Regions from separate parts of the Homo sapiens genome. Here region 1 is linked to region 2. The links come from fine-mapping of genetic effects on gene expression. A gene starts in region 2. The other region holds a variant in brackets. All regions are shown on one strand. Distances are between the middles of the regions.

Region 1 (5,380 bases), 30 kb after region 2:
CCATTCCGCCTTTTATTTTCTTCAAGTGATGAAAAGGAAGGATGCTCAGAGAGACCAGCAAGGACATGGCAGGACTGCAAGTTGCATCCAGGGTCCAAACCCTCATCCCTGATTCCAAATTCCATCACCACCCACCACCCAGCACTGCCTGTCCAGCCCATCAGTTACGCTACTAATTCACAGCATCCTTTGAATCAGTGGAAAGAAAACCCTAAAAAGTTACCAAAGAACTAAACAAAGTTATCAATTAATTTATAATTAACCGAGATAATCCTTGTAAAAATAACTTTCAGCGGAGGGTGGATGGCCTTAAATTTCCCCACAAAAGGTAAAACTTTCCCAGACATCCCTTTCTGAAAATGAGATGTCAGTGGATGAGAAAAGCCTGCTCCCAAGAGTAGGTGTGAGGTATTGCACCTAGGCCCACTGCTGGGATAAGCTGGCACAGATACACGGGACATGATGCTTTCATTCTCACCTTAAAGAAAGAGACAGAGAAGAAAAGGAAGGGGAGCAAGTGGAGAAGGAATACAAGAAAGAGGAAGAGAAGCAGGAAGATTCTACATACAGGCTGGCTGTGTTTCCCCTGGGGCATGCTCCTGTTTACTGGTCCCATGCCAGGTTGACTCATTGCCTCGTTCATGGGTGGAATTAAGATGCCTACCTGGGGAATAAATAGAGCAAGGCTGGGTGCTCACCTCCACAGCGGCTTCCTTGATCCTTGCCACCCGCGACTGAACACCGACAGCAGCAGCCTCACCATGAAGTTGCTGATGGTCCTCATGCTGGCGGCCCTCTCCCAGCACTGCTACGCAGGTGAGTTCTGTGCAGGGAGGGCTGCCTCGGGGTTAGGGGTTGTCACTTGGGCCTCTATGGAAGAACTCCTGCTCCCCAATTCTCAGCAGAGATCAGCCCCAGTACAAAGGCTGTAGGTATAACAGATCTCACCATGTTGCCCAGGCTGGTCTTGAACTCCTGAGCTCAGGCAGTCTGTCCACCTCGGCCTCCCAAAGTGCTGGGATTATAGGTGTGAGCCACCACACTTGGCCTAAGATACTTGGAAATCTTCTGTGATGCTCTGAATGGTAATAGTGAAGCATCGTATGATTTTGAACCAAAGAAGACCAAATAATCTTCACGATATACTTCCAAGTCCGAGTGTTTCATTTCTCAAGTCTTCTCATTAAATGAAGTTTCATGAGGTTTAGCTTTTCTGGGCTGGGGAGTGGAGAGAAAGAAGTTGCAGGGCTTACAGGAAATCCCAGAGCCTGAGGTTTTCTCCCAGATTTGAGAACTCTAGATTCTGCATCATTATCTTTGAGTCTATATTCTCTTGGGCTGTAAGAAGATGAGGAATGTAATAGGTCTGCCCCAAGCCTTTCATGCCTTCTGTACCAAGCTTGTTTCCTTGTGCATCCTTCCCAGGCTCTGGCTGCCCCTTATTGGAGAATGTGATTTCCAAGACAATCAATCCACAAGTGTCTAAGACTGAATACAAAGAACTTCTTCAAGAGTTCATAGACGACAATGCCACTACAAATGCCATAGATGAATTGAAGGAATGTTTTCTTAACCAAACGGATGAAACTCTGAGCAATGTTGAGGTGTTTATGGTAATTTCATTTTCTTCCTATAAGCTTTTTAAATCCCCTGACCAGGGACAAGTGGGCTCTTCATTTCTCACTGACAATGCCAAAGCCACTAGTGAACAAGCCTTTTCTTACATTGGTTAATTTAGTTGAATGGTTAGTCTAATGACTTTGCCATCAAGAAAAACATCCAGTGTCCCTGTGTTGTCACTCTACCCAGAGAATCCTCAGTGGATGATAAATGAATAGGGCAAGAGAGGAAAAGGAAAGGTCGGTAGAAGTCTTACCTATCCCCAGAGCTCTCTAATTCATGCTCACAAACACAGACACAATCACACAAACACAGAAACACACATACACACATCCAGACACATGCAAACACACAGACACAGTCACAATCACACAAACACACACACATTCAGACATACACAAACATAGACAGACAGGCAAAGACACAGACACAGACACAGACACAATCACACCAGCACACAATCATCCAGACACAAACACAAACACACAGACAGAACCACACAACCACAGAAACACAGAGACACACACAAACACACTCAGACACACACATACAAACATATGTTCACTCTCTACAGAAAAAACAATTTTCCAGAAGACCCGCACCTATAGACCAATCTGCAGAGAAAACTTCTCTTCTTCAAAAAAAAGTAAAAGTGTTCTTTCTTAAAAAATGCCCTATTTTTCAACAGTTTGGAAAATACCATTTGAGCAAGATTCTATACATCTCAAATAAAAAGAATTTAAAATGCACTTCCAGGCAATCATAATTTGCTAGCATAAATGATGAGAAACCTTGGACTATCCAATAGGCAACTGTAGATCATGGGTATGAAACCACCATGGAGGAAGAATTGCCTCAAACAAAAACCAATAGTTTTGTATTTCTTTCTAACTATACATGTATATTGTTGAGGGTTTTCTTTAGCATTTATTCCCTATGTTAAATTCTTCTTTAATCCTTCCCTGGTAAAAAAAAAAAAAAAAAAAAAGTTAGAAATATACCAAACCCCTCCATTAGGATGAAAGTGAACATCACCTCAGGAAACCCTGACGCTTTCTACAACATGGATGAACCTTGAGGATATTATAGCGAGTGAAGAGTGAAGCAAAGAGTCACAAAAACACAAATGCTGCATGACCCATGCATATGGGAATCTGGGGAGCCAGACTCAGAGACAGT[GA/G]AAAAAAAAAAAACAGTGGTTGTCAGGGCTTGGGTGCAGAGAAGAAGGGGGAGTCATATTTAATGGGTCTGGAGTTTCAGTTGTGCAAAACAGTAATATTCTGGAGTTAGGTTGCACAACCACACGAATATACAGAACACTCCGAACTGTCCCCTTAAAATGGCAAATTTTATGAGATGTACATTTTACCACTATTAATAATTTGTTAAAAACTAATTATCAACTGCAGGGAAGGGTGATGGATTTGTTTCTTTAAAAGCTTCCTCAGACAGATCATAGTCTGCAGCTCCAATAATTAGTAGAGCACAATGGTGGTGGCAGAGGGCGTCGGACTGCTGGGATGCTGGGAATATTTCCACAATGGAGGGTTAGACGAGAGCTCAAAGTTTCACTTTTTTTTTTTTTTTTTTTTTTGCATTTGAGCTAAGATTTTAACAATCCTGTGAAAATAGGTAATATAGTCACGTATTTGTTGAATACATTATTTCAAAGAACCACAAACACACAGAAAAAATATTTAAAAAGTCCATGGTGGGGGAAATGATCCAGAAACAACAGCTCTTCTACTTCCAGCCCTAACCGTCTGGGATGCTAGATGGTTGTGGGCAAACCGTGGAAAAAGATAAGCTTCTGTTTTTCAAGATTTTATTTTGTTAGAGAGTGCAGAAAATCTAAGTGATGTCTCTGTTTTTGCTTTCTAGCAATTAATATATGACAGCAGTCTTTGTGATTTATTTTAACTTTCTGCAAGACCTTTGGCTCACAGAACTGCAGGGTATGGTGAGAAACCAACTACGGATTGCTGCAAACCACACCTTCTCTTTCTTATGTCTTTTTACTACAAACTACAAGACAATTGTTGAAACCTGCTATACATGTTTATTTTAATAAATTGATGGCAAAAACTGAAGTTTCTCTTTGTTCTACCGTAGAAAAGAGGCGTTAGAGGGCCTCACATATTTTACATACACACACACACACACTTACTTATTAAAGAACTCATGGTCATGGGTTGAGGACTCTGTGAAGCATTTGTTTCCTCAGTCTGACCTCTAAGCCTTGGTACTCTCTCTGAAGAGTGTTTCCCTGTCCCCATCCCACCACCTCCCCCGTCGACTCTCTCTGGAGTCCTCAGGCTCTGGGATGTGAGGCAGGGTTTCACTCAGAGGACCTGCTTTCACTCCAGTCCTCCCATCCACGCTGAGCCCTGCTGGCCATGTCAGGCTTCTCTGCGCTGTCTCTGGGCCTCCCCGAGATGTGCAGGGCCTGGGCCAGAGCCAGCCAGGGAGAGGAGTCCTGCAAAGCAGGGTGGCACCTGACTGGGTTTAAATTTTGTAATTTTTACTCATCATGGATGTTGGCTTCAGTTTAATTTATAAACTACTACAGGAAAATATTATTTTTAACCATATTATGTTATTATTTGAATCCTATGCAATATGACTACTGAGTTTAACAGTACCCCTATTAAGATTTTCAATGTCCTCTAGTCCTGTGCCTGTGGTGGGACTGGGGTCCATCCTCCGCTGTCCCGCAGTGAGCTGCAAAGGCAATGAGGGTTGAGGGGAGTGAGTGTGCTGTGCAGGGACCCAGCACAGCAGGGGATGTTTACATGGAACCTGGAGTCTCTTTCATGTCCTGTCCCCAGCATTCCTGTCACCAGGGGCAGTTATTGCCACCTGTTCTGCTTCTACCTCAGCCTGTCCCTCTTCTTTCTGAGGCTATCCCCTTGTAAGGTTTTTGTATCGGCTCGAACCCCAAGAACATACCAACAGACAACACGAGGCAGTGTGGAGCAACATGCTGTTTTAATGAGCGCCTGGAAGCAGGAGGGCTGAGGCCTAAAGTGGCATCAGCCTTAAGTGAGGATGGTGCAAAGGTTTTATAGTCTCCTGTAAACAGGAAGTGTCCTAGTCTGATGTAACTGCTATGTTATATCTGGATGGCCTCTTTCTCCGTCTTCAGGGGTATGTGTCTTCCGGCCGGCTCTCTTCCTGCTTCTGCTATCTTGCTGGTGCACCCCACTAGCACAAGTAGCCTTGTGCCTTGGGACTGAGCCTGAGAAGTGGGGAGCTCATCTCCTTAAGCTTTCAGGCCCTGGGGAGAATTTTACATTGCTGTCTATTTGGTTATGGAAAAAGGACGACTTTCTCAATAACCACTTCAGGTGTGACATGGGGTGGCATGGGCACCTTGGAAAAAGAAAAACTTAATTTTGGGGCTATTCTTGAGAGACAGGTTGGTATCCACCATGTCATTGTAGCAGGAGCATCATCTGGATTGTCTGGAAAGGTGTCTGTGCCTGCAAAACAGTTATGTTGAGAGGACAAGGAGGTGTCAACAGGGAGAGGCATGGCCTCATTTGCTGCTTCACGAATGAAAGACCATGTCTGGATTAAGAAGGGGAATAATTCCTGAGTGGCTCAGAGTCTGGTAAGGGTGGAGGCCCCAAGACAAAAGTTTGGCCATACATGATTTCAAAGGGACTATAGAAAGAGGGTGCTTTTGGTGTTGCGTGGAGTCTCATGAGGGTAAAAGGGAGATTTTTTGTCCACGACTGGGGGGTTTCTAGAAGCAGCT
Region 2 (5,380 bases):
GGCTGTATCTGTGAGCCTTGTATCTGTGAGCCTCACCACTGGCCCTCCCACTCCTTGGTGGTGGCGGAAGAGCTGGCTCAGGGATTTCCTCATGATCCTGTGTGATGGAAGTGACAGCCACTGTTGCCCTCAGCTGGGGCTCAAACAAACCTGCCAAGTTGTCTCTGATGACACAGCCCATAAGGTCCCCTCTTTACATACATGTCTTTCTGTGTGGTTTTCAGCCCTCCTGCCCATCAGAAACACCAGAGCAGTTTAAACAGTGTAGGAATCAGGGAGTCAACCCAACGCTACTGAATCAAAATCCCCAGAGAGAGAAACCTGGGGAGTCAGTATATTTTAAAAGCTCCAAGTGATTCGATTGCGCAGCTGCGAATGGAAAGCTCGGGCCTAGGCTGTGAATCCTCTCAAAAGTAAGTTCATTTAAGAGAGAAATTTCTTGATGTGTTGCTGGATTCGGTTTGCCAGTATTTTATTGGGGATTTTTGCATCGATGTTCATCAGGGATATTGGTCTATAATTCTCTTTTTTTGTTGTGTCTCTGCCAGTCTTTGGTATCAGGATGGTGCTGGCCTCATAAATTGAGTTAGGGAGGATTCCCTCTTTTTCTATTGATTAGAATAGTTTCAGAAGGAATGGTACCAGCTCCTCCTTGGACCTCTGGTAGAATTCGGCTGTGAATCCATCTGGTCCTGGACTTTTTTTGGTTGGTAGGCTATTAATTATTGCCTCAATTTCAGAGCCTGTTATTGGTCTATTCAGAGATTCAACTTCTTCCTGGTTTAGTCTTGGGAGGGTGTATGTGTCGAGGAATTTATCCATTTCTTCTAGATTTTCTAGTTTATTTGCATAGAGGTGTTTATAGTATTCTCTGACGGTAGTTTGTATTTCTATGGGATCGGTGGTGATATCCCCTTTATCATTTTTTATTGTATCTATTTGATTCTTCTCTCTTTTTTTCTTTATTAGTCTTGCTAGTGGTCTATCAATTTTGTTGCTCTTTTCAAAAAACCAGCTCCTGGATTCGTTGATTTTTTGAAGGGTTTTTTGTGTCTCTATCTCCTTCAGTTCTGCTCTGATCTTAGTTATTCAATGCCTTCTGCTAGCTTTTGAATATGTTTGCTCTTGCTTCTCTAGTTCTTTTAATTGTGATGTTAGGGTGTCAATTTTAGATTTTTCCTGCTTTCTCTTGTGGGCATTAAACTTATCCACCATGATCAATTGGGCTTCATCCCTGGGATGCAAGGTTGGTTCAACATACGTAAATCAATAAATGTAATCCAGCATATAAACAGAACCAATGAAAAAATCACATGATTATGTAAACTAGTTCAACCATTGTGGAAGTCAGTGTGGCGATTCCTCAGGGACCTTGAACTAGAAATACCATTTGACCCAGCGATCCCATTACTGGGTATATACCCAAAGGATTATAAATCATGCTGCTATAAAGACGCATGCACACGTATGTTTATTGCAGCACTATTCACAATAGCAAAGTCTTGGAACCAACCCAAATGTCCAACAATGATAGACTGGATTAAAAAAATGTGGCACATATACACCACGGAATACTATGCAGCCATAAAAAATGATGAGTTCATGTCCTTTGTAGGGACATGGATGAAGCTGGAAACCATCATTCTCAGCAAACTATCGCAAGGACAAAAAAACAAACACCGCGTGTTCTCACTCATAGGTGGGAATTGAACAATGAGAACACATGGACACAGGAAGGGGAACAGCACACACCAGGGACTGTTGTGGGGTGGGGGGAGGGGGGAGGGATAGCATTAGGAGATATACCTAATGTTAAATGATGAGTTAATTGGTGCAGCACACCAACATGGCACATGTATACATATGTAGCTAACCTGCACGTTGTGCACACGTACCCTAAAACTTAAAGTATAATAACAAAAAAGAGAGAGAAATTTCTAGTGATTGATTTCCTGCTCACACCACACAAAGGCATCACAGCAGGAGGGCAGGAGGGTGTGTATTGCTTTGTCTGGGTGCTTCCTTCCCTTTCTATTAAAAATGGGATTGGCTCAGGCTGCACAGCTAGATTTGAAGTGGAAAACTTGAGCCTAGAGGTTGGGGGGAAGTGACCACTCACCCTGATCATCTGTCTCTTCTTTTCCATCTTCTTCCCCTCCTGGAGCCCCAGAGCAAAGAACTCTCAGTACCTGTCCGATGCATGATTGGCTCTGGACACTCCAAAAGCTACTTGGAAAAAGTTAGGCTATGTAATCATCAGGTCAACCCATCAACATGTGGGTGGCTACACATCACAGAAAGCTTGCTCCTCGTAGAGAGAAAATGTGAGTCTTGGCCATATTTATAGCTGCACTCATAAACAAGACTCAGGTTTGGGAGTGAGACAGGCTAGAGAACAGGTGCAGCAGTTGCTTTTCCCCAGGAAATCCTCCAAAGGTAAGATGCATTGAACTAGGTTTTAGGTACCTATGCAGTGAACATGGTGGTGATGGGAGGGGCTGAGGGGAATAGGTCTTGTTTAGACTTGCTCAATGTGCAACTGAAACAAGCCTACTGGTTGTCAGACATGCAGGGGGATCAAAGCAGGGTTTCCTTATGTCCCTGCTCCCCCATAACCAGAACACAGCCTTCCAGCTTCCTGTGCCTTCCAAAGTCAGAATTTACCTGTGCCCTTGAACTGATACAAAGAAAAAAAATAATCAGCAAAACTCAGAAGGAAACAGAATCCCAGGAATATTTCCAGAGGTGCCTGAACATTCACCTGGAACACAGAGCAGAGTTCCTGCAGGGCTACCCTCCTGTGCTCTGCCCCAGTCAGAGTGCAGGGAGGCGTGGGGAGGTGACACAGATGGATGGCAACAGCCCTGGGAAGGAGAGGTGGGCTGGGAGCCAGGCCTCATGACCAGTACCAGCTAGACTCCCTAGGTACAAATAGCCCTGGGCTCTGCAGCTCCACAGGCTCCTGGGGTGGAGTCCAAATCACTCATTGTTTGTGAAAGCTGAGCTCACAGCAAAACAAGCCACCATGAAGCTGTCGGTGTGTCTCCTGCTGGTCACGCTGGCCCTCTGCTGCTACCAGGGTGAGTACATCAGTCATGAGTCTAGCTCCAGCCCCTGGGAAGCACCCTCTTCCAAGCACGAGGTCACCTATTCAGGCTGGGGTTAGGATCTGCACAAAACCAAAATTCCAAACCTTTTTCTGTGCTTGTTGAACAAGCCCCTCATCAAGTTCAGAGCTATTTCTTCTACTCCCCAGCACCTACGAAGTTTTATTGAAAATCAGTGCAGGCAAATATTAGGAATTCTTCTGCCTGAGCTTCACTCCTGGGTGGGATCTGTGTCAGATGATGTAATGTGAGGTCTGGGGTGAATCTGGGATCCGCCACTTCCCAGCCCTTTGACCTTGGGCACAATGCTCACCCTCCCTGAGCCTCCTCCTATCACTGGTAGTTAGCGCTTCTGCCAGGAGAGGCTATGAGAATGGAGTAAGAAAGATTAATACTGTCAAAAGAGTCTAGCTGTGGGCTAAGCATGGCGGCTCATGCCTGTAATCCTAGCACTTTGGAAGGTCAAGGAGAGTGAATTGCTTGAGCTCAGGAGTTTGAGTCCGGCCTAGGCAACGTGGCGAAACTCCAGCTTTACCAAAAGAAATATGAAAAATCAGCTGGACGTGGTGACATGCACCAGTAGTCTCAGCTACTTAGGGGGCTGAGATGGGGATATCGCTTGAGCCCAGGAGGTAGAGGCTGCAGTGAGCCATGATTGAGCTACTGAATTCCAGCCTGGGTGACAAAGGGAAAAAAAAGAGTTTGGCTGTTGATATGAAGTGCTTTCCTTTATTGTGAGAGCTTGAGGAAGTCACACCTGAAGGGTCTGGCATTGTCATCAGCACAACAAATGTATGTGAACATATAACCCAGGGGATCCTGTCTGGTCTAACGTCAGGGAGCCAAAGAGAAAAATCGACTTTCCTAACATCAACTATATTTTTATTCTTTTGCTGCAGCCAATGCCGAGTTCTGCCCAGCTCTTGTTTCTGAGCTGTTAGACTTCTTCTTCATTAGTGAACCTCTGTTCAAGTTAAGTCTTGCCAAATTTGATGCCCCTCCGGAAGCTGTTGCAGCCAAGTTAGGAGTGAAGAGATGCACGGATCAGATGTCCCTTCAGAAACGAAGCCTCATTGCGGAAGTCCTGGTAACTTCTTTCTCCTTTATTTGTTAAGGCTTCTGGTCAGCTGCACAGTATGAAGTGAGGTCAGCTTGCTGCTCTGTTGGGGACACAGGTGGTGGGGCAGCTGCCTTGCTGGTCACCTCTTGAGAAGGTCACCTGGGGCCACAGGGTGGGTGCCACCATTTCACCTGCAGAATTCAACTCAGCTGCACACAGCCTCCTGCATGTTCCTCCTTCTCATGTCACCTGCCTGGATGCCATGTCCCCAGAGTGTGCTGAGGACATGGGGAGTGAGCCTGGGCCCAGGCAGAAATGGTAAAGGGCCAAGCATGGCCGCCTCGCTGCTGGGAGCTTTCCTGAGACCAAACTGCCCTCATGTAATGGACACAGTCACTGTGGAATGTCCTGGGGAGCATGGGAGCCTTGAACAGGGAGAGGAAGGCAGGGAGGGACATAGAGCAGGGGCTCCTGCAGATGTAGCACTGGCAGGCTGGACTTCTCTGCAGCTTCTGCAGAGCCAGGAAGGAGCCCCTCCCAGCTCCTGAGACCCCATACTCCCCTCCACACCCACGACACTCTCCTGACCATGGCCAGTCGTCCAAGACCCTAGCTAGTCTACCTCCTGCAGTGCCATGGAAGCGGGATGTTCTCACTCTGTCTTTCTCAAGAAATCAGAGGTTTTCCAGGGGCCTCTCTGCCTGGCTGCCTCTGAGTTGCTGTCCTGAGGTTTAGCTGCAAATGCTCATGGAAGCTGCAGGCTCGGGACTGAGAGGTGCTCGGGCCCTGAGGCAGAATTCCCACATGGGGAGGCTGGAGTCTCCTGGAAGCCAAGCTTCCCAGAAGCCCTCTCAGCCCTGACCAGCCTCTCAGTCCTGGGTCCCTCACTGCAGGAACCAGGAGACTCCAAGCCCTGGGACAGCCCAGGCAATAACCTCTTGCTGCTCTCTCCAACCCTCGTCACTTGCTTCCATGAGGATCCTGGGCCTCATTCCCGGATCACCCCAGGGCTATTGGCCTGGCAAGAAAAGGCTGCTCCATCACCGGCATGGGTGCTGTGAGGCCACCAGGTCTAGGCCTCAGTTTCCCAAACTGAGTTGTTGCCTCTGCCCTTCCAATTGCCTTTGGGGGCAGAATCCCACTGGCCTCTTGGATGTGAGCCTGTCACCTCCAGCAGCAGCATGACTGACCCCACCTTCTTTTTTCTTTTCCT

Alleles and levels. Alleles are on the strand shown, and positions count from the first base shown. SD is a standard deviation of normalised expression in the study named.
For the expression in skin of the gene that starts at base 2,957 in region 2, G is the high allele of the variant in region 1 and GA is the other (small effect, 0.33 SD a copy in TwinsUK).

What was found. PIP is the estimated chance that this variant, and not a neighbour inherited with it, causes the effect. A credible set is the group of variants that fine-mapping cannot tell apart.
Region 1: its variant is the best candidate, but not a certain one, in a credible set for the expression of SCGB1D2 in skin (TwinsUK, PIP 0.54).

What each region holds. Positions count from the first base shown.
Region 1 is chr11:62,269,456-62,274,835 of GRCh38, forward strand. SCGB2A2 (secretoglobin family 2A member 2) reads left to right here and starts at 703. Exons shown (of 3, transcript NM_002411.4): 1 at 703-816; 2 at 1,426-1,613; 3 at 3,502-3,705. The coding sequence starts at 762. The coding sequence ends at 3,540. The variant GA/G (reference allele first, on the strand shown) is at 2,800.
Region 2 is chr11:62,239,283-62,244,662 of GRCh38, forward strand. It overlaps SCGB1D2 (secretoglobin family 1D member 2), which reads left to right and starts at 2,957. Exons shown (of 3, transcript NM_006551.4): 1 at 2,957-3,080; 2 at 4,007-4,194. The coding sequence starts at 3,026.